Homo sapiens: one gene and its partners. The protein of the gene in region 1 purifies or fractionates together with the protein of each later gene. This does not show direct contact. Each region holds a gene or a part of one and is shown on either strand. Other genes may lie near its edges.

The links.
Region 2: the proteins of LGALS12 (region 1) and LIMD1 purify together in Homo sapiens (affinity purification with mass spectrometry; 3 studies listed by BioGRID and IntAct, with this or other methods). This does not show direct contact.
Region 3: the proteins of LGALS12 (region 1) and CSPG4 purify together in Homo sapiens (affinity purification with mass spectrometry; one large-scale study listed by BioGRID and IntAct). This does not show direct contact.
Region 4: the proteins of LGALS12 (region 1) and RIMS1 purify together in Homo sapiens (co-immunoprecipitation; one large-scale study listed by IntAct). This does not show direct contact.
Region 5: the proteins of LGALS12 (region 1) and SLCO4A1 purify together in Homo sapiens (affinity purification with mass spectrometry; one large-scale study listed by BioGRID and IntAct). This does not show direct contact.
Region 6: the proteins of LGALS12 (region 1) and ITGA5 purify together in Homo sapiens (affinity purification with mass spectrometry; one large-scale study listed by BioGRID and IntAct). This does not show direct contact.
Region 7: the proteins of LGALS12 (region 1) and ATP13A3 purify together in Homo sapiens (affinity purification with mass spectrometry; one large-scale study listed by BioGRID and IntAct). This does not show direct contact.

The regions. Positions count from the first base shown.
Region 1 is NC_000011.10:63,512,335-63,516,477, forward strand, and holds part of LGALS12 (galectin-12), read left to right. Parts: intron 1-647; coding exon of another isoform or gene 648-654; exon of another isoform or gene 655-1,991; intron 1,992-3,228; coding exon 3,229-3,379; intron 3,380-3,912; coding exon 3,913-4,059; 3' UTR 4,060-4,143. UniProt on the Homo sapiens protein: Binds lactose. May participate in the apoptosis of adipocytes.
Region 2 is NC_000003.12:45,671,059-45,675,201, forward strand, and holds part of LIMD1 (LIM domain-containing protein 1), read left to right. Parts: intron 1-1,631; coding exon 1,632-1,762; intron 1,763-2,395; coding exon 2,396-2,447; intron 2,448-3,284; coding exon 3,285-3,353; intron 3,354-4,143. UniProt on the Homo sapiens protein: Adapter or scaffold protein which participates in the assembly of numerous protein complexes and is involved in several cellular processes such as cell fate determination, cytoskeletal organization, repression of gene transcription, cell-cell adhesion, cell differentiation, proliferation and migration.
Region 3 is NC_000015.10:75,691,980-75,696,122, reverse strand, and holds part of CSPG4 (chondroitin sulfate proteoglycan 4 precursor), read left to right. Parts: intron 1-2,889; coding exon 2,890-3,053; intron 3,054-4,143. UniProt on the Homo sapiens protein: Proteoglycan playing a role in cell proliferation and migration which stimulates endothelial cells motility during microvascular morphogenesis. May also inhibit neurite outgrowth and growth cone collapse during axon regeneration.
Region 4 is NC_000006.12:72,175,907-72,180,049, forward strand, and holds part of RIMS1 (regulating synaptic membrane exocytosis protein 1), read left to right. Parts: intron 1-3,668; coding exon 3,669-4,009; intron 4,010-4,143. UniProt on the Homo sapiens protein: Rab effector involved in exocytosis. May act as scaffold protein that regulates neurotransmitter release at the active zone.
Region 5 is NC_000020.11:62,641,038-62,645,682, forward strand, and holds the start of SLCO4A1 (solute carrier organic anion transporter family member 4A1), read left to right. Parts: upstream 1-1,465; 5' UTR 1,466-1,516; intron 1,517-4,645. UniProt on the Homo sapiens protein: Organic anion antiporter with apparent broad substrate specificity.
Region 6 is NC_000012.12:54,394,958-54,399,100, reverse strand, and holds the end of ITGA5 (integrin alpha-5 precursor), read left to right. Parts: intron 1-402; coding exon 403-504; intron 505-1,613; coding exon 1,614-1,736; intron 1,737-2,724; coding exon 2,725-2,808; 3' UTR 2,809-3,840; downstream 3,841-4,143.
Region 7 is NC_000003.12:194,431,319-194,435,461, reverse strand, and holds part of ATP13A3 (polyamine-transporting ATPase 13A3), read left to right. Parts: intron 1-1,565; coding exon 1,566-1,690; intron 1,691-3,569; coding exon 3,570-3,745; intron 3,746-4,143. UniProt on the Homo sapiens protein: ATP-driven pump involved in endocytosis-dependent polyamine transport. Uses ATP as an energy source to transfer polyamine precursor putrescine from the endosomal compartment to the cytosol.

The DNA of each region.
Region 1 (4,143 bases):
GTTAGACAGGAGCCACTGGCCGGCCTGCCTTGAGGAAACGCATTAGAGTTTATGACTTCTCTGGGCCAGAATGCCTGGGTTGGCATGTGCTCAGGACACCTACTTGTGCAACCTTAGGACAGATACTTTTCCTCTCTGTGCCTCTGTTTTCCTCTCTGTAAGAAGGGGATGATAGGCCGGGCGCGGTGGCTCACACCTATAATCCCAGCACTTTGGGAGGCCGAGGCGGGTGGATCACGAGGTCAGGAGTTGGAGACCAGCCTGACCAACATGGTGAAATCCTGACTCTACTGAAAATAGAAAAATTAGCCGGGCATGGTGGCGCATGCCTGTAATCCCAGCTACTCAGGAGGCTGAGGCAGGAGAATCGCTTATACCCGGGAGGCAGAGGTTGCAGTGATCCGAGATCGCGCCACTGCACTCCAGCCTGGGCAATAGAGCAAGACTCCATCTCAAAAAAAAAAAAAAAAGATAGAGGGGGTTGATAATAATGCCGACTTTAGGGGTGGTACTTAGAATAGTGCCTGGTACATGGTAAGTGTCCACAAATGTGGGTACTACTGCAATCATCTCAGTGGAGGTAGGGGAGGGCAGAGTAAGGAAAGCACCCTATGTTCTCCTTGCTTAATTTTGTTTTTATTTTTAAGTCACTGACCTCACTAAACCCTTGCCCTGCACACTGCCGATCATGCCTGTGAATTCTGGGACAGGCATGAAGCCCAGCACTCGATGGCCTCGGCCTCCAAAGACAGGCATGACTGAGTTGGATTCCTGGTTTTGTCTCTTATAAACAGTGCGGTCGTGGGCCAGTCACTAAACCTCTCTGAGTCTGAGTTTCCCTACCGGAAAAAGGTGAATGATAATTCCAACCTGCTAGGGAAAATGAAAAGTGCTCAGTGATGGAACACTTCTTCCCACAAAACTTGGAGGCATGAGACCGGGTTCATATTGTAGCTCAAAGTCACAAGGTTACTAGTGACATAGTCAGCAAGTAACTGCTGTTTCCCAAGGGCCATGAATGCATGTGTCCTCAGAGGCCAGACAGGTCTCATAAATAGTGAGGAAACCAGTTGGGAAGGTGGTAAAGGGGAAGGAGTATCTCCATACACCCAGTCATGCCAGATCTTCTGACTATTTTTAAAGCAAAAATAGAAGCCATCTTTTATATAAACTCTCTCAATTTTTGAATATTATATTAAAGTTGAAGAATACTATGGACCAGACAAAACATTCCTATACACCAGTTCAGCCGAGATCCACCAACATGAAGATTTAGCACAGCACCTGGTATTTAGCGAGGCTGCAACCAATGCAGCTGCTGCTATTTTGTGAAAGCAACTGATGGCTTGAATGGGGCAGAGAGAGTAAGAGATGGAGGGCACAGGATTCATCTGCAGTGAAAATCTATCCCTCCTTCTTCACCTCATCCCTTCCCTCCTCGTTATTGAGTGGGAGTGTATGACTGCAGCCTCAAAGAGCTTCAACAGAGCTTCACTGGGCATCTGGTGATTTGTGATTATTCAGTGATCTAGTGGGCATCTAGTGATTCATGATTATCCAGTGATCTGGCGGGCTGAGCTGCATGAAGGTGAGGTAGGGAGACACTGAGGCCTCCTCACCAGGAGTTCGCAGGCCAGAGGAAGACACAGTGTTGTCTGGCAGGACGGGGTAGGGGGAGCCATAGTGGGGCTGGAGGCTCCACGCAGTCCACTCTCCAGGGTTCCTGCCTTCCAAGCTTCTTCCCAACATTGGGCCCTGGCCACCTCCTTCCCAAAGTTGGAAACTTACGGGGCCTCCTCCTGTAAGGATCTACCAATAGCCCTTGAAAGGCCTGTCCAGGGCGGCCTTTTCCCCTACCTTACCTGCCTCTGCATCCCATCAGGATGCCGCGCCTTCTCCAGCATAGCTCTTCAAGAAGGAAACTTGGGAAGTTCCCAAGACATAAAAATAATCTGGGCCGGGCGCGGTGGCTCAAGCCTGTAATCCCAGCACTTTGGGAGGCCAAGGTGGGCAGATCACAAGGTCAAGAGATCGAGACCACCCTGGCCAACATAGTGAAACCCCATCTCTACTAAAAATACAAAAATTAGCTGGGCGGTGCGGGCATGCGCCTGTAGTCCCAGCTACTCCGGAGGCTGAGGCAGGAGAACTGCTTGAACCTGGGAGGAAGAGGTTGCAGTGAGCCGAGATCGTGCCACTGCACTCCAGCTTGGTGACAGAGCAAGACTCTGTCTCAAAAAAATAAAATAAAATAAAGAAAAATAATATAATCCGGTTGCCCTATTTGAGAGGCAGGTGCCAGATCCCCCCACCCCCAAATCTAGAGTCATGAATCCTAGTTCACATCCTAACCTAAGGCCCTACCACTATTACTAGTAACAGAGAAGTCATTTAACTTCTTGTCCTCATCACTTAAATGGGCTGACAAACCTCACAGCACAGAATTTGTGAGGATTAAGGAAAGGCAAACTAGCTTCTGTAAAACACCTACTGTGTGCTAGGAATTGCTAGTTTTCACATACATTATCTCCTTTGTTCCTTTTTTTTTTTGGCTCTATGAGGTAGAGATTGTATTATATAGCAATATTTTTAAACAATAGGTATCATCTGAATGCTTATTACGTTCCAGGTGCTATTCTAAATAAGCATTTTTTTATGTATTCATTTAATTCTTACAACAATGCCACAGGCAGGTACAGGGCAGTTATGTTATCGTCACATTACAGATGAGGAAACTGAGGCACAGAGAGATTAAGAGTCTTGCCCAAGGTCACAGGACTAGAAAGTAGCAGAGCCAGGGTTGAATCGGGACTGCCTGACTCTAACCACTATGCTGTTTGGAAAACATTTAAGATAATACCTGGCACTTAGTTAGCATTCAATAAATGTTAGCTGTAGCTATCATCATCATAATCATCCCCATTTTCAGGAGGAGAAACTGAAGCTCAGGCTAGGCAATTTTCACACACTTCCCTCCCACCCCCATCCTCCTGTAGTCATAGATGGCAACCCTGGAGGTCAATCTCAAGTTCATCTAGAACTCGTGTTCTTTCCACTGTTCTGAGCATTCAGCCATGAGGCTGTCATAGGCCCTCAGTGCTTGTTTCTGGAGGCTGAAGCAGCTCAACCTTCCATCCACTCCCTGACCTCCATCCTTCCCCTGGGGGCTGAGCAGCGGCCTATGGGCAATGGGCGCTGATTCCTTCTCCTTCCTCCTGCTTCCTGCAGTTTTACTGTGAGCCTGAGGGACCAGGCTGCCCATGCTCCTGTGACACTCAGGGCCTCCTTCGCAGACAGAACTCTGGCCTGGATCTCCCGCTGGGGGCAGAAGAAACTGATCTCAGCCCCCTTCCTCTTTTACCCCCAGAGATTCTTTGAGGTAGGTCAGAGCCAAATGATTACATCCCTTCAGGCTGGAGCACAGAGCTGAAGTCCCATAATGACCTGGGAGATGCTGGGGCAGGTGTGCAGGACAGATGTTATGGGGTGGGAGGCCAGAGCCAGCAGAGCACAGCGAATGTCTGTACAGCAGTCCTCAACGCTCCACTCTGATGCCAGGGATCCCATGGCCAGAAACTCAATTGATGCAGGTGGGGGGGGGCCCAGGCATCAGCTTTATTAAAAAGCTCCCCTAATGATTCCGACGTGCAGAACCACTCCTCTACAGGAAGCAGCCCCAGTTACAGGTGGTGAAACTGAGGCCCAAGGCTGGGAAGATCCTTGTCAAAGACCACAGTGGGCTGGTGACAAGCCGGGCCCCTTATCCTGTTCTTTTCCAGCACTGTACTGGGTGCCCCCTGGGTCCAGTCTTCGTGTCCTATGAGAGGAGGAGGGTCTCACTGGAGAGAGCGTCAGGCAGACAAGGGAAAGTCTGGCTGGAAGCTGCAACCCCCTCATGTCCTCCTTTCCCAGGTGCTGCTCCTGTTCCAGGAGGGAGGGCTGAAGCTGGCGCTCAATGGGCAGGGGCTGGGGGCCACCAGCATGAACCAGCAGGCCCTGGAGCAGCTGCGGGAGCTCCGGATCAGTGGAAGTGTCCAGCTCTACTGTGTCCACTCCTGAGGATGGTTCCAGGGAAATACCGCCAGAAAACAAGAAGGTCAGCCCACTCCCAGGGCCCCACTCTCCTCCCCTCATTAAACCATC
Region 2 (4,143 bases), on another chromosome or scaffold:
GACAGCATTCATCTTGGGGAAAATGCATTCCAAGGTCCAAATTGCCAAATGGGTTTTGGAAGCCCAGCCAGTTGTTCTTCCTGTTTTGCCTTACTGCAGATTGAGAGGGCCCTCAAAGGTTAGGGAAACCCAAGAGGGAATGAGGAAGCTTGAAAGCTGAGCATTCAGAGGAAAGCTGGAATAGCACAACGCCCTCCTCTTGCCTTCTTGGCTGGAGCTTGTGCAGTGTGGAGTTATCCGCCTGAGGCTTCCAGGGGAAGGAGCTGTAACACAGCATATCTTTACCCCTGGGTCTCACAGTGTACTGACAAGGCTTCCCCAAATCCAAAATCCCCTTTCTTCAGCCTGTTTGAAGGCTTTCTGTGTGGGCTCCCACTGCTGGATGCTGATGACCGTTCTGTACATTCTTTGCAGATGCATGTTTTGGTGTGACCTTGCTCATGTTGATTCTGTAGTTCAGTTGTTTTTGCTAAGTTTCATGATGCAGGTAATTGCAGAAATGAATCTCCTATTAAGTCAGTGAAGATGCTTTCAACTGCAAATTATAGAAAAAACCCAGACTCAGTTCGAGTTAAACCAATGATCCTCCAACTTTAATATATATCAGAATCACCCTATTAAAATACCAACTGCTGGGCCTTACCCCCAGAGTTTCTGATTCAAGAAATCTGGGATGGGGTCCAAGAATGTGCATTATTAACAAGTTTGCAGGTGATGCTAATGCTGAAGGTCTGGGGCCACACACATTTCGAGGACCACTGACTTCATAGGAATGATATTTTATCTCACCTAAAAAGAGGCTTGGAGGTATGTGGTTCCATGATGAGTTAATTCAGTTACTTACGGACCTCACCAAGGATGTTCTTTCCATCTCTTCTCTTTCCTGCTGTCCATGTCTTGGGTCTGTCCTGGTTTCAGGTTGGCTCTGGCAGTTCCAGGTATCCCATCCAGATCCAGATTAAATGACACTGAGAGGAAGAAGTTTGTGGGGCTTTCCCTCTATTGCGTTTAAAAACAACAACAGAGAAACTTTACTTATTACACTTGGATTTGAGGTCATTGGGTTGAGTCAGAACTTCTAGATTATCATGCTCCAGAGTCAAAGCTGCATAGAAGGGGCATCCAAGAGGCAGAAGTGAAGGGGTTCCTTTTGAGCTCTGCCATTTCCACATGGAATTTCTTTTCATTTTTCCGAGTACTTGCTGCTTCCCAAATCTGGGAAGGATGTATCCTTCTGTGGCCCTGCTTTGCATCGTTTCCCACTTCTTCGTGGTGGATTTTGGCCCTGGGATTGGCCCATCCCTTCCTTACCATCTCTTTCTCTTAAAGAACTATGCAAGAGTTTCCTGTTCTGGGTGAGGGTTGGAAAGGAGCCCTCTTTCCCTGCCAGCTCAGAGACCCTGTGAGAGGCTGCAGGAGAAGGATTCCTGTGTGGTCTCTTCTGTGTATTCATCTAAACAGATTTGCCTTTCCCACCCCATCACCTCTTGCTCTTCTCCTAGGTGAAACTCGGGGGTAAGTGTACTCTGTGTGTGACTGCTCATGTAATCCTTAGGCCTGATGTGTTCCTCTCCCCTTCCACCATCTCATCCTTCCCTATAATCCCCACTGAGTCTTGGTCTCTGCTCCAGATCCTGCAAGCCCTGGGGAAGTCCTACCACCCCGGCTGTTTCCGCTGTGTCATCTGTAATGAGTGTTTGGATGGGGTGCCCTTCACCGTGGACTCAGAGAACAAGATCTACTGTGTCCGAGATTACCACAAGTAAGAAGGGATGGGAGCAGACAGGACCCATTCGTGTAGGCCAAGCTGATCTCAGCAGAGTGAGTGGTGGAAACCGACAAAACTGTGTTTGCCAGCCGCCCTTAGATCACAGTCCAGCAAAGGCTTAATGGTTTTGAGGGGTACAGCAGGGACCTTGGGAGGTTGGTCGATGCCAGTGTTGACAGGAATGGGTTAAAGAATCATGTTTAGTGAAAAAAAAAAAACAACAGAGCACAGAAAAACTAATAATCATATTTGTAGCTAGGCCTCGGGAGGAATCCACCAAGCCCTGTGGCTTCAGCGTTACCTAACTTCACAAGGCCCCTATGCAGTGCTGGTTCCTACCACTCTTGGTTTGCCTGGGCCTGTGCTAGGCACCATGAGAGGTGTAAACAAATCAGTTAGTGCTGTCCCCAGAAGAGTGAGAGGCAGCCAGTGTCCTCATTGCAGCTGGGGAGCAAATACTAAGGCATATTCCACAAAGTGAGCCAGGTACCAGTCATTCTATGAGGGAGGAGAGCAAGGGGCAGGAGGCGGCATGGAGGAAGGCTCCATGTGGATTCCAAGTGCAAGTCTGACTCTGGAATTTGCTCCCAGAAGCAACATTTATTGCTGCTTTGTTTCTCCCCACAGGGTGCTGGCCCCCAAGTGTGCAGCCTGTGGGCTTCCCATCCTTCCACCTGAGGTAAGATGCCCTTCCAGACATGCTCCCAGGGGCTTCTAAGACATGAATATCTCCCTGGGCTCATTTACAAGATCCATGTCCTGTCCTTACAGCTTTTAAGGTATCCTTTTAAAAATCTCAACTCTGGCCTGGTGCAGTGGCTCACGCCTGTAATCCCACCCCTTTTAGGAGGCCCAGGCAGGAAAATTGCTTGAGGCCTGGAGTTTAAGAACAGCCTGGGCAACATAGCAAGACCTCATCTCTACAAAAAATTGTTAAAAATTGGCCAAGTGTGGTGGCATGTGCCTGTAGTCCTAGCTGCTTGAGCCCAAGAGTTTGAGGCTGCAGCGAGCTATGATGGTGCTACTGCATTCCAGCAGGTGACAGCAAGACCTTGTCTCCAAAAAAAAAAAACCAAAAAAAACCCCACTTCACCTTTGAGATAAGTCGTGTCTTCACCCTTCCTTGTTGACTGGCTTCCCCAACCCAGTACCCTTCTTGTGCTGATTTGTCCCCATAACCAGGTCAAACTCCCTTACTTGATACTAATTCTTAGATTAGCAGATGAGGAGAAAGGCTTGTCTTTTCTTCATTTTTTAAAATAAGTGTCCATGTAGGTCTTTCTTTCAGTGTTAACTCTGACATTCTAGAAGGAAGGACTCCTATCCCTCCTACTTCCCCTCTCATCAGCTTAAATGTATTCTTCTTCCAGTAAGTACTCCTGATTTACCTTCTCCTCCCAAGGCCACCTACTTGTTACCCCCAAAACCCTCTTCCCTCCCCACCCCACGGTACATCAAGCCCGACAGCCCCCCTAACAGGCCTCTCCTATGTGTTCTTGCTTTTCTCTGGTCCCAGGGCTCAGATGAGACCATCCGTGTCGTGTCCATGGACAGAGACTACCACGTGGAGTGTTACCACTGCGAGGTAGACCCCTCCCCACCCAGCCCCCAAAGCCCATTGTAGACATCCAAGAGAAAAGCATCCTGCGTTGACTGGGGCAAGAGGCAGTCAACAAGATTCTGGCAAGGGTCAGCCCTCTAGAGCTTCTGTAGGAAATGGAATGAAGGCTGGTTCTTGGGGGAGGTAGGAGAAGATGGAAATGCTCAAGGTATAAAGGTCTTTCTTCTGCATATTCAGAACTATCAAGTCCTGCAACTGTTGGAGCTGCTCTCCCTGAAGCTGCAGAGCTAGGAGGGTCGTGGAGAGCATGGGTTTCAGGTCCTATCTGCGGGCCACATTGTCAGGCAGGTGTGCGATTTGGGGAAGGGACTCCCTCCCCTCCAGCTTGCAGGCTGTTCTATCTGCCTGAAGCTCCTTTCTCAGCTGAGCCCTGGAAATCATGAAGCCCCTCTTGGAAACAGGCATGTCAGCTGGTGGTGTGAAGGCGGGTGGGGTCCGCCTGCCCCTTCCTGCCCTTTGTCCCAACCCAAGATGAAGGAGCACTAGTACCTGATGACTGTCAGGAAAGCTAGAGGTTGCCCCTCACCAACCCTTGTGAAGGGTGACCATGGAATTTCAGCCACAATTAAGTGAATTCACCCATGGAAGGAGATTAGATTCATTTGGTGACCCTGTGGGTAGAGAATGGGGGTGTCCCTCATATAGACTTGTCCCACTGCCAACACTGAAGAAATGGGTGGGAATCATTGCTGCTGGGACCCCAGGTGCCCCAGGTCACTGCAGGAGAAAAAGGTGAGGACATTTGCTCAACAGG
Region 3 (4,143 bases), on another chromosome or scaffold:
CTCCTGGCTCAGAGGGCAGCCCATGGGGCTGCTACAGGTTTGGTCTGCTGTTTTGATGAATCATGGGTCCTCTTGACCCAGGAGAATCAACGGCAGGTCTGATCCAGCCTGTGCCAATGTCTCCCCACAACCTCCTCCATCCCCCCGCCCCAGTCACGCAGCCGAGCCTAGCTTGACCCATTCTACTTTTCCCTCTACTTCTCTTCCTTCAAGTTAGCCAGAGGCTTTAGCGGGTGATGGAGCAGAAACCCTCCTAGCCCCACCCAAAGGGGACCTGTGTACTTCCTGCCAGTCTCACTCGGCCTTGCTGCTGTCCTCTGAGACTGCCTATTCCTCCCTCTCTGTGTCTGTACACCACCGTGACCTCCTCCAGGAAGTCCTCTGGATTGACTCCTAGCTTATTACATCTTAATTCTGCACACCCTCTCCATTTGAAGCCCCTCTTCAACTGCCCCCCCACCACCTCCAAGACAGGGATTCTGAGTTCTTGCAACTGAAGCCCCTCAGAGAGTGTAAGAGGGGCAGAAAAAAGGAGACCAGGAGGTGGAGGGAGTGGCGCTGTCAGAGTTTCCAGAGCCCTGGCCAGCAAGGCCTCAGAGGCCTCTGTTGGGGTGGGGGGCTGCCTGGCCACGCGCTCCAGCAGCACAAGACAGCCTGTGTGAGCCCCTCCCGCTCAGCCCCACAGGAAGCAGCAGGGCCCAGCCCCTCAATGGACCCATTCAGACCCCAGCGCTCTGGAAAGTACCTCTACTTCCTGCCACCCTCCCACTCTGGCCAAACAGGCTCTACTCTCCTCTGCTGGGAGGGGGCTGCAGGCAGGTGGTTCAGTGGTTAGGGCCAACCATCTAGTTCAGTTCCTGCCTGGCCCAGAGCCCTGATGTTGACCATGACTTGGCGGGTCTACATATACCTTTAGTGCAAGGGTGGGTAGGGGCAGGGACATGTGCCCCCTTCTCTGTGGGTGCTGGATAGGTAAATGTTTAGCAATGGGCTTTCTTGGGGAGGGGGAACCCTGATTTGCAGTATTTGCCTCTTTTCCTGGTATAAATGTTCTCACTGTGGGCAGTATCACCTGGCTCTCAAAATTCCTGAAAATTCAACAGTAGACTCCTGGCAGCTGCTGTCAGCCGCTCCAGCAGGTGACGGTGGTGGCTCTATCCTGCAGGGCCATGTGCCCCCACCCCTTGTGCTATGGCCTCCCTCACTTTAGTGTGCTGTGTTTTGCTCTTAGGAATCAATGTCTTTGCAGATAAGGCACCCCGGTAGGTGGCCGCCACCTGCAGTTCCCTGGTCTGTCCCTTGCTGGCGCCAAGCTCTGCTGAACCAGCTGGGCCGCCCCCGCGCAGATGGTCTGCAGGGCTCCCTTGATTCCCGTAGCTTCCCAGACAAGGTGCTGGTATTGCCAGCAGTGCTGGCAGGAGGAGATAACTAGAGGGGATTTAACTCAGCCCAAGGGGTTCTTACGGGATCTTTCTTGGACATCCCTCCCAGTGGGGCTGGCTGCCCTTAGGGTGTACAAGTCTCCGACTCCTCCAACGGCTGAAGCTGCTTACTCAGGCGGATGGCAGCTGGCTCAGGCTGGCCAGGGACCAGCACATGGGGCTGGTGCCGGATTATCCCTATCAAGGCCGTCAGCCTGTGCTCGCTCTCGGGTTTGAGGGAAGCCCAACAGGAATGAATCACCGTTTTTAACCCGTGTTTCTCTACCCCCCAGCCCTGGACATCTGCAGGCAAAGTCAAAGTTATATTTGGCTCTTATCACCACAAAAGGCATGGACCAGAAATTGTGGCAGCGGGTTGGAAGTCAGGGAGGCTAATCTGGGGAAACTGACTGGAGGAAGCAGCAATTCAAAAGAGGAGGAGTCCCAGTATGGGACAGAACGGGCCCTGCATAGGAACCACTAACCCCAGGCAAGCCCAGACATGGCCTTCTGCCTGGGGAGGCCCTCTTTGGCCTGCCCAGCAGACCCTCAGCCCCTCCCAAGCCCTGTCTTCAGCCTCAGCCTGCGTGGTGGCCTGGGGAAGTTAGGAACTCAGCTGTTCTCATCCCTGGTTCCTTGGCCACGGTGGAAACAATGGGGCCGGATCTGACTGCTCATCGGGGACTGTGAATAGCTCTCCAGCAGGAAGCAATAGCAAGGGTAATGGAGGAAGTGTGGGCCCACTTTGGTTTGACACTGCACATGGTCCCCATCTGGCCTCAGAGCCTTTGCTCCTTGGCAGACTCAGGCCAATAAGCTCCTGCCCCGACGCTCAATGGCAGCTGGAAGAATGGCCTGAGAGAGAAGCGGGGATAGGTGGGCCATGCTGACACCACCCCCAGATCCCAGTCGTGGCCTCAGCCAACCCATGGAGGCGGGGCATGGCACAGCAGGCGCTGCACAGGAGCCCAAGCACAAGGGCACTTAGGAGAAGGAATCTGAGCAGGGATCAGTCTGGACTGGGGGTGATTCTCCAGAAACTCCATTCCTTGGGGCTGTGACCACCAAGCCAGATGGTCAGGCCAGTTGCGGTTCCCTTTGGGCTGGGTCCAGGAGCCAGACCCACGAGGGAGACTCCTCTGGGGCCCAGGGGAGGCGAGTCAGAGCTGGCGGAGGCCTCTGGCTCCAGGAACCTCCAAGGAGGAGACCTGAGTTGCTGGGAATTTCTGGGTCTGACCTCCTGTAAATACAAGATCTGGGCTGGACACAAGGTGAGCCTGTGCCTTCTGGTGCCAGGACCAAGAAGATGCTGGGACCCGGGCAGTGCTCAGAGGCAGCACCATACAGCAGAACCATGAGGGTGCGCCAGCACGGACCCCTTTCTGCAACCCACCCGTCCCTCTTTGCGGCACCTCGCCTCCTCCAGGCAAGAGTCTGAGCCTTGACCACAGCTCCCTCTCTCACACAGCTTCCTTCTTCGGTGAGAACCACCTGGAGGTGCCTGTGGCCACGGCTCTGACCGACATAGACCTGCAGCTGCAGTTCTCCACGTCCCAGCCCGAAGCCCTCCTTCTCCTGGCAGCAGGCCCAGCTGACCACCTCCTGCTGCAGCTCTACTCTGGACGCCTGCAGGTGAGTGACGTCCCCCTGAGATCTGGGCGGGATTCGGGGTGGGATTCCTTCTCTAGCTTTGAGTGAACCCCAGCTGGCTGTGTGACCTTGTGTAAGTCACTTTTATCTTGGGGTCTTAAGTTCTCCACTGTGGGATGGGCAGCAGCAGCCCAGAAATGGTAAATCCTTCATGAACTGGCTCTGCCCACTGGCTCCCTCCAACCATGTTTCCCGCCACAACCCCTCGCTGGCCCTTTGTGCTCTGACAGCCCTGAACTGCTTTCAGTTCCTGGCCATCTTACAGTCGCTTGCTGCCAGGCTCTTGATGCACACTCCTTCTGCCAGGTGTGCGCCTCTCCCGTTCCCTGCACATGCCTAACTCCAGCCTCTCCTTGAAGTCTCAGTGTGGGCATCCCCTCCTCCTGGGCTAGGCCCCCTCCTGAGCCCCCATGACCCCTGTGCATCCCGGTGGCACTGCACCAATTTCTCTGCAGCACCATGGTCTGTCCACGACAGTAACAGCACCAGTACTGCCTCAGCTTCCTCATTTTTCCATTTCATCCTTCAAGACACCACAAGCTTTGTTAGCAAGGAGTCTTGTGGCTTTTTTGAGTCTTCCCCTAAACCATGAAGAGTTTAAGAACCCAGGGTCTTATTCCGAATTTGTGCCAGGCTGGGTGCAGTGGCTCATGCCTATAATCCCACCACTTTGGGAGGCCAAGGTGAGAAGATCACTCGAGCCTAGGAGTTCAAGTCTGGCCTAAGCCACACAATGAGTCCCCATCTCTATTTTTAAAAGAAAAAAATAACCGGACGCGGTGGCTCATGCCTGTAATCCCAGCACTTTGGGAGGCTGAGGCGGGTGGATCACCTGAGGTCAGGAGTTCGAGACCAGCCTGGCCAACATGGTGAAACCGTGTCTCTAATAAAAATACAAAAAAATTAGCCGGGCATGGTGACACATGCCTGTAATCCCAGCTACTCAGGAGGCTGAGGCAAGAGAATCACTTGAACCCAGGAGAAGGAGGTTGCAGTGAGCCGAGACCGCACCATTGCACTTCAGCCTGGGCAACAAGAACCAAACTCCGTCTCAAAAAAAAACAAATTTGGG
Region 4 (4,143 bases), on another chromosome or scaffold:
TAAAAAATTCCTATGGGTTTTATAAAATAGTTTATTGTACTTCTTAAGAATTAAGAGGAAAAGACAATTAAAAATGCAGTTACAGCAAAAGGTCAGAATACAATTTTCAGTCCTGCATATTTTCTGATATGTGGCATGGTGTTTCAAAAGTCATGTAACTTCACGATAGTATTTGAATTGAGTTTGTGTGTGATTGCTTAACATCTGTAAATTGTTAAGATAAGTTATTGCACAGGCCTACTTTAGTTTAGATTAGTTTGGAACACATCCCAGGGTATTTAATCAGGGTATAATCCTGCATAGTGCAATTTCTAAAAGGTGTGTTTGTGTGCTTTAAATAAATAGCATTTTTTTGTAGGCAAAGTTACGTCTTATCCTCTTTTCTAAAAAAAAATCTGTTAAAAATGACTCCCTACAGCACTCTTGTATTATCTATAGCTTCAGGCAAATATAATACTTAATACTGACTTCAAAAAATGTACTGTAGAGGTCTGCAATGTTTGGTATTAACTGTGTTGAAATGTATGACAATATTCTATTGTAATCTTATATATTTTTCTTTATAACTTATATGAGCAATTTATTTTTTATTTGTAAAATTTGTGGTATGATTAATTTGTAGAACTGAAAATAGAGACTGGGAGGTGATATTTTGATAAAAATAAATATTTTAACATTGCCATGGTTAATTTTACTTTCAGTTTGGAGGATGGATTGACTACACTTATAGTTAATTTAAAAATACAAATTTAAAAATGTTGTGGTGTACAAGGAAATAAGACATAGAAAAAGTTTGGAATTATACAGTATTTTACTAAATGTTAAAAACAAAAAAATTAACAAAGCATCACAGACTTAAATGAATACAAAGTATTTTAAGAATAGAATTTAAAATGCCTATGCTGTTTTGACATAGTCACTAATTGTAACCTTTTGAATAAACTGGAAATGAAATTAAATTGTAAAATTCAACTTATTTAATAATAATAAATTGTGTTTCTTTTAATTGATCTGGTAGCAGTTCTGCACATACTCAAAATTTGGAACATGCCCAAATCTGGCAGTTAGTTCTCATTGACCCATTTTTTGTAACGTTTAAAAATGTGAAGCAATCAAAATAAGATTGTGATAATAATTTCTAGAGAATATTCAAATGTAAAATGAAGAGTATCCTTTACCCTTCATCAGTATTATTGTGCTCCTTTCTGCTTCTTTATTTAGCTTTATTCAATTTTAGAAACTTTGTAATTGTAAATTTGTGTTTTCTGGTTTTTTAAAAACTGCATATTTATCCTAAGTATACCTTGATATTTCTGTAGAAAAGAACCTACTTGATTTTATTTTATTTCTTATTATTTATTTTGAGATGGAGTCTCGCTCTATCGTCCAGGCTGGAGAACAGTGGCGGGATCTCAGCTCACTGAAACCTCTGCCTTCCGGGTTCAAGTGATTCTTCTGCCTCAGCCTCCCAAGTAGCTGGGATTATAGGCATGCACCACCATGCCCGGCTAAGTTTTGTATTTTTAGTAGAGACGGGATTTCACCATGTTGGCCTGACTGATCTCGAACTCCTGACCTCAGAAGATCTGCTCCCCTCAGCCTCCCAAAGTGCTGGGATTACAGGTGTCAGCCACCACACCTGGCTGAAAAGAACCTACTTTAAATGATGATAATAAGTTGCTTACTATTAGTCTGAGAAATACAAATTTAACGTCTTCTTATTTGATGTAAAATAGTCAAAATTTCATACCAGTCTTGTTGAATTACATGATTTCAAACTTTCTTATTATGGTCTGTCAGCTAAAGAGACAAAAAACAAACCAACCAACCAAAACCTTCCCACCACACACGTCCTGTCCCCACTCAGGGTTCTGGGCAGAAGAGACTCAGTGTCACTGACTGTTCATGAAGGTCCTGGCCCTGGAGTACTGCACCTTTTAATGTTACCCTTAATATGTCCATGTTCAAACAATCAGGACTTCTGAGGGACCTACTCAGTAATAGATTTTGTAAAATATACCCTTATTTGGCTAGCACTTAAATTGAAGTTACTTTCCATAAAATCCTTATTTTGATATAGGTTTATGCAATGAATTGTTCATCTTGTTTGACATCTTAGTAGATGAGAATTCCGTAATATTGGTTATAATACTTTGTGTAGACATTATACCTAACTGCTTTTTTGAACCTAGTACACTTCATTTTATGACTGGGAAAGTCTAAATAAATCAATTAACCTTCATGAATTTTAAATTTTTTATAGCAAGTATTTCTCTTCAGTCTTAATTTTTCCTATATTATAATTCATTTGAGTTTTCTTTCCTGGAAAGCAGTTCTTAATTCACCTGCAGTATTTTCCTTTTAAAAAAGTGTATTACTTTTTTCCTGTCTTTTTCTTATTCTTATTTTAGCTTCATCTTATTCTATGGCTACAGTTACAGTTTTTCCCCATTTATCTGAATATTTTCAGTAGTTCATTTTCTTCATTTGACCTACTAAACAATGCTTCTTTTACTATTTTCTATTACTTATCAGTTAATGTTTCTACGATTTATTCATCCTGATGCAATATTTTTGAGTACATGTTGATTGAGTCAGTATTTGTGAAAAGGAAGCCTAGAGTTTGGTAATTAGTTTTTCCTGTGGAGGTAGTTTCTGAAGTAGAAACAAACACAAAACACCTGAAGTGCTTTTGGAGGCATGTAACTGAGGCAGCGATGTAAAGTCACAGCACAAAGAAACAGAGGTACTGAGGATATTTGAAAAGACAGCTCATGGAGCTGTTAGCACCTATCTTTGCCCTGTGACAGCTAGTCATTGCTGCTATTATTATTTTTTATTATGATAATCGTCCTCATTATTACATTCATTTTAAAGGTCATCAAATGGAGAACAGACATATAGTTTATTTTAAGTGGTGCTACATCTTATAATTTATCAGTGGATATGTTGCTAAATGATGGTTCCCCAATAGCTCTCCTTGGGGAACATTACATTGGAGTGGTCACATATGAATAAACTCAGAGTCACATTTATTGCTTTAGTAAATATGTGCATGGAAAATTATATTTTATAGCATAAATAAGCTTAAGGTTAGTTTATCACTAAGAAACTAGAGAAAATATACACATTGACCTTTTTTGTGTGCTTACTTTGTATGTTTCTTCTATGTGAATATTTTTAATATTGCCTTTAATTGTGGGTGATTTTTGAAAAGACAGACTTTTTAAAAATACTTGCAAGTACTGAGGTTTATGTATTTACGTACTGATTCTGTAGTTCCTGGTAACATTTTTCTTTTTTTTTCCTGGTAACATTTTTCTAATCAGTTAACTACCTTGCTTAGAACATTTTTGCTAACACTCCAGAGTCAATTATAAAAAATATGACAGATATATGGTAAAAGGAAATTCAGAATAATCAAATCAGAAATGCTGAGAAAAAACCTCTACTCTGGCTGCTGAGAGGCTCTCTAGTCTCAGACAAGTCCCTGTCTAGGCATTCATATATTTGACTGTGACTTGTGGGAGGACCATTTTCACAAGAAATTTGCAAGGATAAATATGAAAATGAATACTGTTCTTTTTTTCTTAAATATATTTTAAGATACTGAAAAATTATTTCCAAGAGGGCATAAAAATTTATATTGTTCTTTCTTCTTCAAATAGGTTATGTGGGTATGCAATTTATGTCGAAAGCAACAAGAAATCTTAACCAAATCTGGGGCATGGTTCTTTGGAAGTGGCCCTCAGCAGACAAGTCAGGATGGAACCCTGAGTGATACAGCTACAGGTGCTGGCTCTGAGGTACCAAGAGAAAAGAAAGCACGACTCCAAGAGCGATCGCGGTCTCAGACACCCCTAAGCACAGCAGCTGCCTCCTCCCAGGATGCTGCTCCTCCCAGCGCACCACCAGACAGGAGCAAAGGGGCTGAGCCCTCGCAGCAAGCCTTGGGGCCTGAACAGAAGCAGGCTTCATCCAGGTCTAGAAGTGAACCTCCTAGAGAGAGGTAATAGTTCTTTCACCCTGTAAGCAAAAGGCAAGATTTTGCTAGGAGAGCAAAGCCGTTTTCAAGAATTTAACTTCTATTACGAGGAATATGTGGAAGTAGTACTTCTCAGGCCCCACATGGAAAAACAAAAG
Region 5 (4,645 bases), on another chromosome or scaffold:
GCGAAGCTCAGCCCCCTTCCTTCACAGGAGAAATACTTCTGGGTGTGCACCTTCCACTCCTGGCAGGGCCGTGAGCCCCTGTGGCAGTGCCTCACCCTCTGGGAGGGACCCTCTCCATCTGGGAACAATGTGGGTACTTTTTTCTCTTAAAGGGCAGTGTCAGGAATGAAAGCAGATACCCAAAAGCAGTGGGTCTCGTGGCCTCGTGTCTGCTTCCAGAAGTGGAGGGCGGCCTGGGACGGCGGGAGCCCTGAGGACACCACCGGGGGGGTCCCGGGACCTGATACGAGTGGGCAGGAGCCCCAAGCCCTGGAGGAAGGAAAACCATTTCATAAATAACTGCATGGGGTTGTGGGCCTTTTCTCACAAGCCGCAGCACCTCCTTCGTCTCTCCACGGTGAACCCGCCCGCCACGCTATGCCACCAGGCCAGGTCCTGCAGCACCGCCTCCGTGGCTAGGACTTCCTCACCAGCCTGGGGCCGTGAGGTGGTCATTTCCCCCCTTACCTGACTTATCTCAGGATTCACACACACACACTTGACTTTCGGAAACTTCTTTTAAATTAATTTCACTGACACTAAAAGGGAAGCTTTGTGGAGTGTGATTGTGGTTACCTGTTAATACTTGGCAACAATTATGAGCCCTGATATGAGCCAACTTCTTCCGTCTTATCCCCTTTGAGGACGCTCTGTTATCGCCCCCATTTTGCAAACGAGGAAACTGAGGCTCGGAGGCCTGGAGCAATGTGTTCCAGGACAGACGGCAGGAAGCCGGGGTAGGAATTCCAACAGGGAGTTCCCTCTGTGGAAGGGAACGTGGCTGGCACCTCCCTGCCTTCCACCCTCAGAGCTAGTGTGAAAAAGAAGACGGGGTTATGGAAAAGGCAACGGGCTGGAGATTCCCCGGATTCCCAGGCTAGGGCGCCGGTCTCACTGTGCGCGCAGGTGGGGCGCGTGCCAGAACAGGGCCTGGGGGTCAGGCCGAGACCGGCGGGCACCTTCACCAGGGCCGCCCGTGGCGTTCCCCCAGCCCCTCTGCCGCGGGCCCCACGTGGCCCCGACCCTGCGGCAGCCTTTCGGAAGGGCGGAGCTGAAAAACGGCCGCTTGGCTCCACTCGGCCCCACAGCGCCCAGGAGCGAATCCCGAGTCCGTTCGGAACCGCCTCGCCGCGTGGCCTGGGGCGGCGTCGCCACCGCGCGTTCTCGGCCTCCCGGCTGCGGCAGCGATGCCGGTCCTTGGAGCTGGAGCGGGGAGTCCAGGAGGCGGCAGCGCTCCGGAGAGAGACGCCCTGGTCCCCCGCCGCGCGTTCCCGCCTCTGTGCCCTGGGGGGGAGGAGGGGGCGGTCGCCGCTGCCATTGGCCGTGGGGGGTGAGGCGGGCCCCGCGCAGGAAACCCCGCCCCTCCCTCTGCGGCGGGGGCGGCCCCAGCGGATGAATGAAGCGGCGCGTGGCTGCCGGGGAGGCCAGAGCGTGGAGCGCTGCGCGGCGCGGCGGCCGGGCCCTCGAGACGGGGACGGTGAGTGCGCGGGGAGCGGGGAGCTGGCGCGGGTGCACAGGGCCCGACCTGCTGGCGTAGGAGCGCGGCAGGTGCCGCCATCGTGGGCAGGGGCTGGAGCGCCGGGGGGATGCGCGCGGGGGCGGGAGGCCTGGGCACCGGCCGAGCGCCCCGAGCCTCTCCGCGGGGGAGGGCAGGACCGAGCGGAATCGGAGGCCAAATTCGCCGCTTCCCGCCGCCGGCTGCGCAGGTAGGAGCTCCCGAGTCGCCCGCAGGAGGACCGAGGCGAAGGGGCCCCACGCTGCAGCGGGTGCCGGGGGGAAGCGGGTGAGCAGGGGCTGCGGCCCTGGCAGGGACTGTCGGAGTGGCCGGGGCAGGTGACCTGGGCAGGTGGCCCGGAGCGCGCGCAGGCGCAGGCCCCACAGATCCAGCTGGGGACGAACGCGCCTCCGCGGAGCTCCAGAGTTGCGGAGTCACCCACCTGCGGCGGCCGCTGCTGCCGAGTCAAGGAGGAAACCTTCATGCACGGAAGTTTCTCGGGGGCGGCCGGGCTTTGTTCGCGCCAGAGGCGCTCGAGACATCTCCGGGAGGGGAGCGCGGGCGGAGCGCACAGGGCTAGTTTCCAGCAGCGGCGGCGCCCCTTTCCCTGCCCCACCACGCGACGTCCTGGCCGTGGCTTGGGGGGACCCGGGCGCCCTCCAGGTGCAGGCAGAGGGTCGGGTGCCCTCGCGTTGCTGTTGGGCTCCCCTGACCAGGGAGGATGGAAAGGAAGGAGCAGGCAGGCTTAGCTGCCCTAGACCGGCCCTAGACCGGGAACCTGGAAGCAGATCTGACTTCCACTTCCAAGGGAGAAACCGCCTCCCGCACTGGCGCCCCGAGGGGAGAGAGAAGCCCAGCTAGGTTTCCGCGTGGTCCGCGTGGTTGGTGAACCCTCAGGCTGGGGGGTGCCCCGCTTGGCGTGCAAGGCCCTCTTTGGAGCTGCCGTGGGACCTGGCTATGCGTCCTGTTTCTGTCTGGAGGCGGCTGGAACGCGGTAGTTTTCCACATCCATGCAACCAGCTTGTCAGCTGCTGCTCCTCAGCTGTGGTTTTTGGAACTTGGGTTACCTCCATCTAATCAGAAACTGGCTCTGCAGAGCCCGGTGTCAGCGACGTTTTCATTCCCAGCAGCGGGAGCAAATGGATCTCAGAGGACAGCTCCTTGGCCTTAGCCGGCTCCGCTTGTGAATCTGGTAATAATGACAAGGACAGTGACAGCAGGGGTTAGGTGTTGAGTGCTGGAATGTGCCGGGCATGGTACCCCTGCTTTGAGCATCGTCTCATTCAGTCCCTAGCAACCCCACGAGGTGGCCATTATCACTCCCACTTTATAGATGAGTAAACTGAGGCACCAAGAGGTTAAGTGATTGACTCTAGGCCACACAGCTTGTAAGTGCTGAAGAGGTCTGACTCCAGGTTTGTCTGATCCAGGCTTGGGCTCCTGTTTTACGACTCTGTTCTTAAAGAGGCAAAAGGCGACTGCAGGGTCAGGCCGGAGACCCAGAACAGCGTCCCAAGAGCTGGGCCTGCGGTTACTGGGCCAGAGTGTCTGTTCTGGGTTGTCAGTGATCGCAGGACACCAGTAGGATGTTGCTCGGGCCGAGACCACACAGCCCGACTTCCCTCTGTGCTGCTGGAGGGAGCCAGGGCAGAGGCCGGCCACTCGGTGAGACCTGGACGCTGACCACAGCCAGGCTGCCCTGACCGCCCTCAGCAGGCTGTGTCCTGCCTTCCTGCTGGGCAAGGTCAGCAGGTGGTGCCTGGAAAATTCTTCATGAGGGAGCTTCCCTCCCGAGTGGCCGTGACCTAATCTGTAGCTCACTGGGTGTGGCCCCTAAAGCAGGTGCTGGGCAAGTCCCTCCCATGGTGGAGAGCTGGCTGGGCACGTGGCAGGCAGGGCAGGCTGGGCCAGGTGAAGGGTGGCCAGGTGGATGGACATGCTCTCCTTGCTAGACTAAGCCCAGAGAGGCCGGCTCTCCTCGGGGCTCTGATGGGCCCCTTGGCTTGACCAAGCCCCATTGCAGTTTTGGCTCCAGGTCGGTCTGACTTCCAAATGGCAAAATTTTTCTCAGCCCATTGTAGAATGAAAAGTTAACTCATCGAGCTTAGTATTGTGCCTACAAGGTCTTCGATCCGGATGTCTCCATGAGTGTTAATCCATTTCTGGGGTGGGTACTGCTGAGCCAATATACATTCCTGGCTTCCTGGACTCGTCCACTGGAACGTGTTGGGTCCTGGTGCTCTCCCCAGCAGATGGTTGTAGGTGGTCAGAGATGAGCCACAGAAAAGCCAACGTGCAGCCTGGTGCTGGGGGCAGGAGGGAGCAGGGCCCTTGGAGCTCTGGGAGAGAGCCACGCCAGGCCAGCCCTCCTGCTTCCTCAAGCGGGCTGTGGACAGAGGCCACAAAACGTTCCCTCACGAGCCACATGACTGCCTCATTTGCAAGTGGCAAGGTGCACACTGTTGGCTTTTGGACAAGGACATGGGACAGTCCTCAGACCTTGCTGTTGCCTTCGTTCTGGGACATGGACCACTGTCTGGCCCCCCAGTGAGCTTGCTGAGTGTCAGCTGACTTCAGGCAGGATCTGGGTCTTGCCCACTTGTTGGAATGGGCACGTGGGGATTGCACCCCTTGAACAGGGAGGGAGGTGCCAGTAACTCACATGCTAGGTTAACAGGTTCTGGGTGACTCTGAGCCTTGGCCCTGCCAGGGGTGTGAGGAGGAAACTGGCCCTGCTGCTGGGACAACAGACTCTGGGCGTGTCCTCCTGTGGGCCTCTGCAGAGGAAGCAGACTGGGACTACAAAGAACAACCTGGTCCTGGGGACCCTGCTGCCTTCTCTGGCCCCTGCTGGCCCTTCAGGCTACGGTGAGGGTGAGGGTGCGGGTGAGGATGAGGGTGCGGGTGAGGACCCACCCACACCCGCACCCTCACCCTCATCCTCACCCGCAGCCTCACCCTCAGTCCTCAGACACTGGGGTCTCCGGCTGTCTCCAACCCTTCAGTTCTTTTCAGTAGCCTCCTTCCCACCAGCATCACACAGAATTAGACCCTGGGACTACATTTCTGGCGGAAGGTGACTGCTTTTTCAAACCACGTGCCTTCTGCAGA
Region 6 (4,143 bases), on another chromosome or scaffold:
CCAAGGTTGGCGGATCCCTTGAGCCCAGAAGTTTGAGACCAGCCTGGGCAACATGGCAAAACTCCACTTCTACAAAAACAAAACAAAACAAAAATTAGCTGGGCATGATGGCACATGCCTGTAGTCTCAGCTACTTGGGAGGCTGAGGCAGGAGGATTGCTTGAGCCCAGGAGGTGGAGGTTGCAGTGACCTAAGCCCACACCACTGCACTCCAGCCTGGGGGACAGAGTGAGACCTAGTCTCAAAAAAAAAAAAAAAAAAAAAAGAGAGAGAGAGAGAGAGAGACTCAGGAAGAATGAGCCCAAAATAGGGAAAGATCACAACCCCAGCCAGACGATGGGGAACCCTATGTCCTCTGGATCCCAAGAGAGGATGTGCTAACCAACTTTCCCCTACCCACAGCGGGAGCACCAGCCATTTAGCCTGCAGTGTGAGGCTGTGTACAAAGCCCTGAAGATGCCCTACCGAATCCTGCCTCGGCAGCTGCCCCAAAAAGAGCGTCAGGTGAGTCTAGGGCCAGAGGACTGGATGAGGGAATACAGGGCTCAGAGTGCTGGAACAGGGCTGGGACTTGGGTGAGGGCTGGCCTTGGTATTGTTAACAACTGTTGAGAATGTACTATGTGCCAAGCACTGTGCAGATGCCAGAGACAGAGTGGTAAGCAAGATCAACATGGTATCTTTGCTCCTGGTGTTCACAGTCTCGTGGAACAACACAGTGTTCCAAGTGTGGTGATATTTATGAAAACACATAATAGGAACACCTGAACCCAGTCTAACTGGGTCAGGGAAGGCTTCCTGGAAGAAGTGATGTTCAAGCTGAGACCTGAAGAATAAATAGGAACTAACCAGGCTAGCCATTCAGGAAAGGGATATCCTGGGGAGAGGTGAATAACAGATATGAGGCTGAGCGCAGTGGCTCACACCTGTAATCCCAGCACTTTGGAAGGCCAAGGCAAGTGGATTGCTTGAGCTCAGAAGTTCAAGATCAACCTGGGCAACATAGTGAGATCCTGTCTCTACAAAAAATACAAAAATTAGCCAGATGTGGTGGCGCATATCTGTGGTCCCAGCTACTCGGGAGGCTGAGGCAGGAGGATCGCTTGAGACCAGGATGCAGAGGTTGTAGTAAGCTGAGATCACACCACTGCACTCCAGCCTGAGTGACAGAGTGAGACTCTGTCAAAAAAAAAAAAAAATGGATATGATATGAAAGCCCGAAAGTAAGAGACAATATTGTACATTTTAGGAACTTCAATTTTTAAGTTCAGAATGCTGTTAGTTCAAAATAAGAGGTGGAGTTGATCTGGAACCCAGACTCAGACATTGGCACCTAATCCAGGCAGATCCAGGACTATATTTGGGCCTGCTCCAGACCTGATCCTGGAGGCCCAGTTCACCCTGATTTAGGAGAAGCCAGGAATTTCCCAGGACCCTGAAGGGGCCATGATGGCAACAGATCTGGAACCTCAGCCTGGCCAGACACAGGCCCTCCCTGTTCCCCAGAGAAAGGGGAGCCCACTGGGCTCTGCAGATCCAATGACAAGTGGGGGCCAAGTATAGGGTAGAAAGAACTTCTGAGCTTTCATTGACTTCACCCAACTTGCTCCCCAGGTGGCCACAGCTGTGCAATGGACCAAGGCAGAAGGCAGCTATGGCGTCCCACTGTGGATCATCATCCTAGCCATCCTGTTTGGCCTCCTGCTCCTAGGTCTACTCATCTACATCCTCTACAAGGTCAGCCACATCCTGCTTGTGACTTGGCCACCCTCTCATCAGGCTCTGCCCTTGACCTGGCACAGTCCCAAGTATCTACCTCTAGACCAGTTCACCAGCCATGTGCCCCCACCTCTGTCCTGGCTACATGCATCCCATCCTAACCCTTCCTATAAGATCCCCCCCTTCATTCTATAGCCCCTAGCTTAGAAAGGGTCCTCTTGACTCAAGATGATAAGTTTGCCTATACTTGCAAAATCATTGGAACCCAAAGATGACAAATACGTGGCATTTGTGCTGTCAATTTCTCCAAAAATCCATGGCAGCCATCACTAACCTAGAAATGGCTACTGATCATCTCCTAGAAGTGGCTTCAGAATCTCTCTCAAGAGGCAGCCATGGCCAGGTGTGGTGGCTCACACCTGTAATCCCAACATTTTGGGAGGCCAGGGTGGGAAGACAGCTTGAGCCCAGGAATTCAAGACCAGCCTGGGTAACACACTAGGACCTTGTCTCTACAAAAAAAACACAAAGATTAGCCAGGTTTGGTGGTGCGTGCCTATAGTCCCAGCTACTCTGGAGGCTGAGGTGGGAGGATCGCTTGAGCCCAGGAGTTTGAGGCTACAGTGAGCCATGATCATGCCACTGCACTCCAGGCTGGTCAACAGAGTGAGACCCTGTCTCAAAAACAAACAAACAAACAGAAGCAGCCACTACTAAGCAATCAGACTTGGCATTTGAGTTCAAACCTATCTGCCATTTCTGGCTTAACTGGGGAATTTTAAAGGCACTGGTAAAAGATACCCCCCATACAAAATCACCCCCAAGTTTGGTCCTCCTGGGTCCATTGCACAACTTAGAGGGGTAGTCCTAGCCTGAATTCAGAGGCCACTTTTGCAGGATGTAGAGGTTGGAGGCACTAGAGTCCTCCTTATTACTTCTTGGAATAAGAGCTGTGGAGAAATGGCAGCCATAGTACCTAAACTCTCCCTCTTTTCCCCTTTATCAGCTTGGATTCTTCAAACGCTCCCTCCCATATGGCACCGCCATGGAAAAAGCTCAGCTCAAGCCTCCAGCCACCTCTGATGCCTGAGTCCTCCCAATTTCAGACTCCCATTCCTGAAGAACCAGTCCCCCCACCCTCATTCTACTGAAAAGGAGGGGTCTGGGTACTTCTTGAAGGTGCTGACGGCCAGGGAGAAGCTCCTCTCCCCAGCCCAGAGACATACTTGAAGGGCCAGAGCCAGGGGGGTGAGGAGCTGGGGATCCCTCCCCCCCATGCACTGTGAAGGACCCTTGTTTACACATACCCTCTTCATGGATGGGGGAACTCAGATCCAGGGACAGAGGCCCCAGCCTCCCTGAAGCCTTTGCATTTTGGAGAGTTTCCTGAAACAACTTGGAAAGATAACTAGGAAATCCATTCACAGTTCTTTGGGCCAGACATGCCACAAGGACTTCCTGTCCAGCTCCAACCTGCAAAGATCTGTCCTCAGCCTTGCCAGAGATCCAAAAGAAGCCCCCAGCTAAGAACCTGGAACTTGGGGAGTTAAGACCTGGCAGCTCTGGACAGCCCCACCCTGGTGGGCCAACAAAGAACACTAACTATGCATGGTGCCCCAGGACCAGCTCAGGACAGATGCCACACAAGGATAGATGCTGGCCCAGGGCCCAGAGCCCAGCTCCAAGGGGAATCAGAACTCAAATGGGGCCAGATCCAGCCTGGGGTCTGGAGTTGATCTGGAACCCAGACTCAGACATTGGCACCTAATCCAGGCAGATCCAGGACTATATTTGGGCCTGCTCCAGACCTGATCCTGGAGGCCCAGTTCACCCTGATTTAGGAGAAGCCAGGAATTTCCCAGGACCCTGAAGGGGCCATGATGGCAACAGATCTGGAACCTCAGCCTGGCCAGACACAGGCCCTCCCTGTTCCCCAGAGAAAGGGGAGCCCACTGTCCTGGGCCTGCAGAATTTGGGTTCTGCCTGCCAGCTGCACTGATGCTGCCCCTCATCTCTCTGCCCAACCCTTCCCTCACCTTGGCACCAGACACCCAGGACTTATTTAAACTCTGTTGCAAGTGCAATAAATCTGACCCAGTGCCCCCACTGACCAGAACTAGAATCTGTGATCTCATGTTACTCTTTCCAAACCCATCCTGGAACCAAGCGACTTGGTGGAAAGCAGATGCCTATTTCTCTCATGGCTTCTTTCCACTAGGAGCCAGAAGTATGACCCCCCAGAAACTGTGAAACTAGTTCTAGGCTCCCTTCTTAGGTGAAAGAGGTGATGGAAGGAGAGAAAGCAGGGCTTGACTCCTCTGCCCCTCCCTCATCCCCCATCAGACCTGGTCCCCAACACTCCCAAGGGAGAAGGGAAAGGAACCTCTTCTCTTTGGGTTTGAGGATTAGAGCAGAATGCAAAGGG
Region 7 (4,143 bases), on another chromosome or scaffold:
TGTAGAAACAGGTTTTAGCATTTCCCTTATAGCTTAAGCCTTTATATCTTGAATATTGGACTATTCACTAACTAGAGGGTAAGATTTCCTTGACCTGTATCGTTCATACGGTGTGAGAGAGTTAGGAGACGAGCTGAAGCCAGAAACTGGGGCCTGAAGGAAAGCGGCTTAGTGCTTTTGACACATTGTCTTCACATTGATACAGCTTTGGGCTTTGAAATACAATTTCAGGTTTCAAGGCTTTTTCCTGCTGTTAAAACCAGCAGTTTCATTTATATTAATTTTCTCAACTATTCTCTAATATCCTTACCACCCATTGTTAGAAATTAGGTGTTTCAAAGATTTTAGATTTCATAGATACATACTTCAAGCAACTTTTATTGGAATTTTGTCAGAAAAATCATTTGGTTATTCCAAGTCTGAAATTCTAGTCTCTGACCTCAGACCCTCCTCCTTCCCCATTGAGAAAAAAATTTCTATGATATAATTCAGGTAGGTTGAGGTGTTTTTTGTTTGTTTTCTTTTTTTGTTTGTTTCTTTTGAGATAGGATCTCTCTTTGTTGCTTAGGCTAGAGTGCAGTGGAACAAACACTTCTCACTGCAGACTTGACCACCTGGGCCTTAAATGATCCTCACTCCTCAAGCCTTCCAAGTAGTGGGACTGCAGGCACATGTCATCATGCCCAGCTAATTGTTTTTTCATTTTTTGTAGAGACGGGGTCTCACTATGCTGCCCAGGCTGGCCTCAAACTCCTAGGTTCAAGCAATCCTCCTATTTCAGCCTCCCAAAGTGGTGGGATTACAGGCATGAGCTACAATGCCTGACCTGAGATTTCTTAAGAACGTAACTATCACTGAACAGACTTCATCTCTTTTATAGTGCTAAAGCACGTACTATTTTTGTGTGCATCTCTTTGGTTGCATGTCTGTTTCCCCACCCAAGTGTCTTGAGAGCAGAGATCATCCCTTTTTGTCTTTAACCTCCCAGTGACTAGCATAGTGCCTGCTGCATTCTTGATACTCAGTTATTTAAAGAATAGCATCTTGATAACTATATTAGTAATATTTTCAAAGACCCATCTCTGGGTCCCAAGTAGATCTCATTGTTGGATTGCTAATGGTTCTTGTGTCACATTTTCAGGATCAGTAATTGTTTTATAGAATTGATCTGAGACTTGATAATGAATCCACGAAAACTGTATTGAATGTGCTTGTGGCACAGTTTTTTCTTTTTCACTTAACATTTAAATTAGGATATGTTGTAGAGGGCAGTAAAGAATAGATTTATGCTTATTTTTGGATACTACACAAAATGAATATTCCTTAGTATTAGAATTGTTTAGTGTACAGTGACATACATTTCCAAATGATTATTATATTGAGATACTGAACTCTTGAACACACACGTGGTTTATTCAGCATATAAAATGTTTTCATTTATAGATATTTTAAACTGCATTATAACTTATAGACATTTTTAATTGTTTAGATATTTCAAGTTTGTGTACATAAGTTGCTTACTCAATTGACTAAACCATTATGTGTTAAAACTTCTTTTTCTGCAGAGATGCAATTGAGAACAACATGGATTTTATGGGATTAATTATAATGCAGAACAAATTAAAGCAAGAAACCCCTGCAGTACTTGAAGATTTGCATAAAGCCAACATTCGCACCGTCATGGTCACAGGTTAGACTTTATAAAAGAACACAGAAGCAAATGGAGTGTGACAGAGCTGAAGTTATATTATATTGAGGGATAATCAGTTATAAAATCATATTATATAGTCTATAGTGGTTTCAACCTAAGTTCTCTTTTAGCTCTGAATATTTTCCCAAGCGCAAGATAACTTTGTCATATTCTTTTTGAGGTCTAGCGAATCCTATTTATAGAAAGTGTAGTAGAATAGTAAAAGTACGGCCGGGCGCGGTGGCTCACGCCTGTAATCCCAGCACTTTGGGAGGCCGAGGCGGGTGGATCATGAGGTCAGGAGATTGAGACCATCCTGGCTAACAAGGTGAAACCCCGTCTCTACTAAAAATACAAAAAATTAGCCGGGAGCGGTGGCGGGTGCCTGTAGTCCCAGCTACTCGGGAGGCTGAGGCAGGAGAATGGCGTGAACCCGGGAAGCGGAGCTTGCAGTGAGCCGAGATTGCGCCACTGCAGTCCGCAGTCCGGCCTGGGCGACAGAGCGAGACTCCGTCTCAAAAAAAAAAAAAAAAAAAAAAGAATAGTAAAAGTACACTGTAAAAATTTAAACTTGACTCCTTTTTGTTTTCTCTCTTTATTCGTATATTTCTTATAGCACTTATTGTACCTTGTGTTATTTGTAGATTTGTTTTCTGTACTAGAATATAAGATTCTTGAGGGTTAGGAGTATATTTTACTCATGTTGGGGTCCTTTGCAACTTTTAGAACTGTCAGCTACATAGAAAATGATTAATAGATATTCGATAGCATGAAATGTTTATATGTAAGATATTGTTTATTACCCTAGCTTGAATTCTAGTGAAATAGCCTACTTTTTTTTTTCTAGTACATCTAAGGGATTCTCCTGATGTTACTATACTGTTGATAATATTAGATAACTCTTACTCATTAGCTGTGTGAAATTGTGGTAGCTCTGTTTTTTGTTTTTTTTTCTTAGCAGATAATCAGATTTAAGATACTTAATGGCACTTACGTGTTCAGTAAGACTAATATGGAGAAAGTCTGTATACATTTTTGTGTTTTAGACTCTTGAGATCTATCTAATAACATAATTTTACCGTATAACTCAAGGTAACTAAGTCTGTTAGCATTCCAGCCATTCTTAGTTCTTGCGTCTTCTTTGTCAAGACACTTTTCACCTGTTCCTCGTCCTCCTCTTTTATTTATTTATTTATTTTCCCCTTGCCAGAATATGGCTTTGTGTACCAAAGGTCATAGGAAGATATTCTTGGAAATAGTGTGTGGAAATTGAGGAAAGAAATATCTCGCTCTTCTGTTTTGGTAGCAGTGGGATCCACAAACCTTTGTCTGCTTCTCCTTAATAAGATCCTGTTCTTGCTGCTCTTCTTTCTTCTCATGACTGAGAAGTTGTCTCTCTTGTTTCTCGTTTACACCTGTTCTTATTACCTGTCTTACCTTTTTGTTTTGTATGATCTTGCTTTTGTAATTCATCATTTTCTATGATATGGTGCTGGTGTTCTTGCACAGACCACTAGTCACTTTGTAAAGTTATTTCGGTAAGTATTTATTGAGCCACCTGATCTGTGTGTAGCACCGTGCCAGGTATTGTGTAGATACAAATAGTGCATGACTGGAAAAGATTGAGAATTATATTTGGCTTTAAAAATTGTGGGTGAGATGTTTTCTTTAGCATATAACGTGCTTGCGTTATTTGAGGCTTCTTTTGATAAGTATGCTCCAATTTTGTTATTTTTAAACTGTAAGTGGAAGAACCATACATTATCGTTACTCTGCCAGCCCAGTCATGGAGACTGTAGTAGATTCTCAGCAAGTACATGTTTGATACGTTCACGTTTCCATTTTAATTTCAATACATTTAAAATATTTTGAAAATTAGGTGACAGTATGTTGACTGCTGTCTCTGTGGCCAGAGATTGTGGAATGATTCTACCTCAGGATAAAGTGATTATTGCTGAAGCATTACCTCCAAAGGATGGGAAAGTTGCCAAAATAAATTGGCATTATGCAGACTCCCTCACGCAGTGCAGTCATCCATCAGCAATTGACCCAGAGGTAAGGTCAAGATCGACTGTCCGTTTTAAAGTTTGTTGATTTAAATTTAGTCTGAAAAAATAAAAAAAGTGGTGCATTAAAACACAGTAAAGCAAAAACTAAATGAAAACAGAAGTCAGGGCTATTTTTTCAGAGATTATGTTTCATTAGGACTGGGACAGACCCAGGAATCTCAATGTTCAAATTTTGATATTTAGCTAAGATGAGAAGCATAGTTTTAAAGTACAAGAATTCCAGATGTTTATCGTATTCTTCAGGTAACTAGTGGTAAATGATGCAGGTGGTCCATCATACTCAGTTCATGCATCATTTCAAATTGAAGCTGATATTTAATTGAGTTTCTTTTTACTTTGAATAAATGTCCGGCTTTCATCATGTTGTGGAACATATCAAATGAA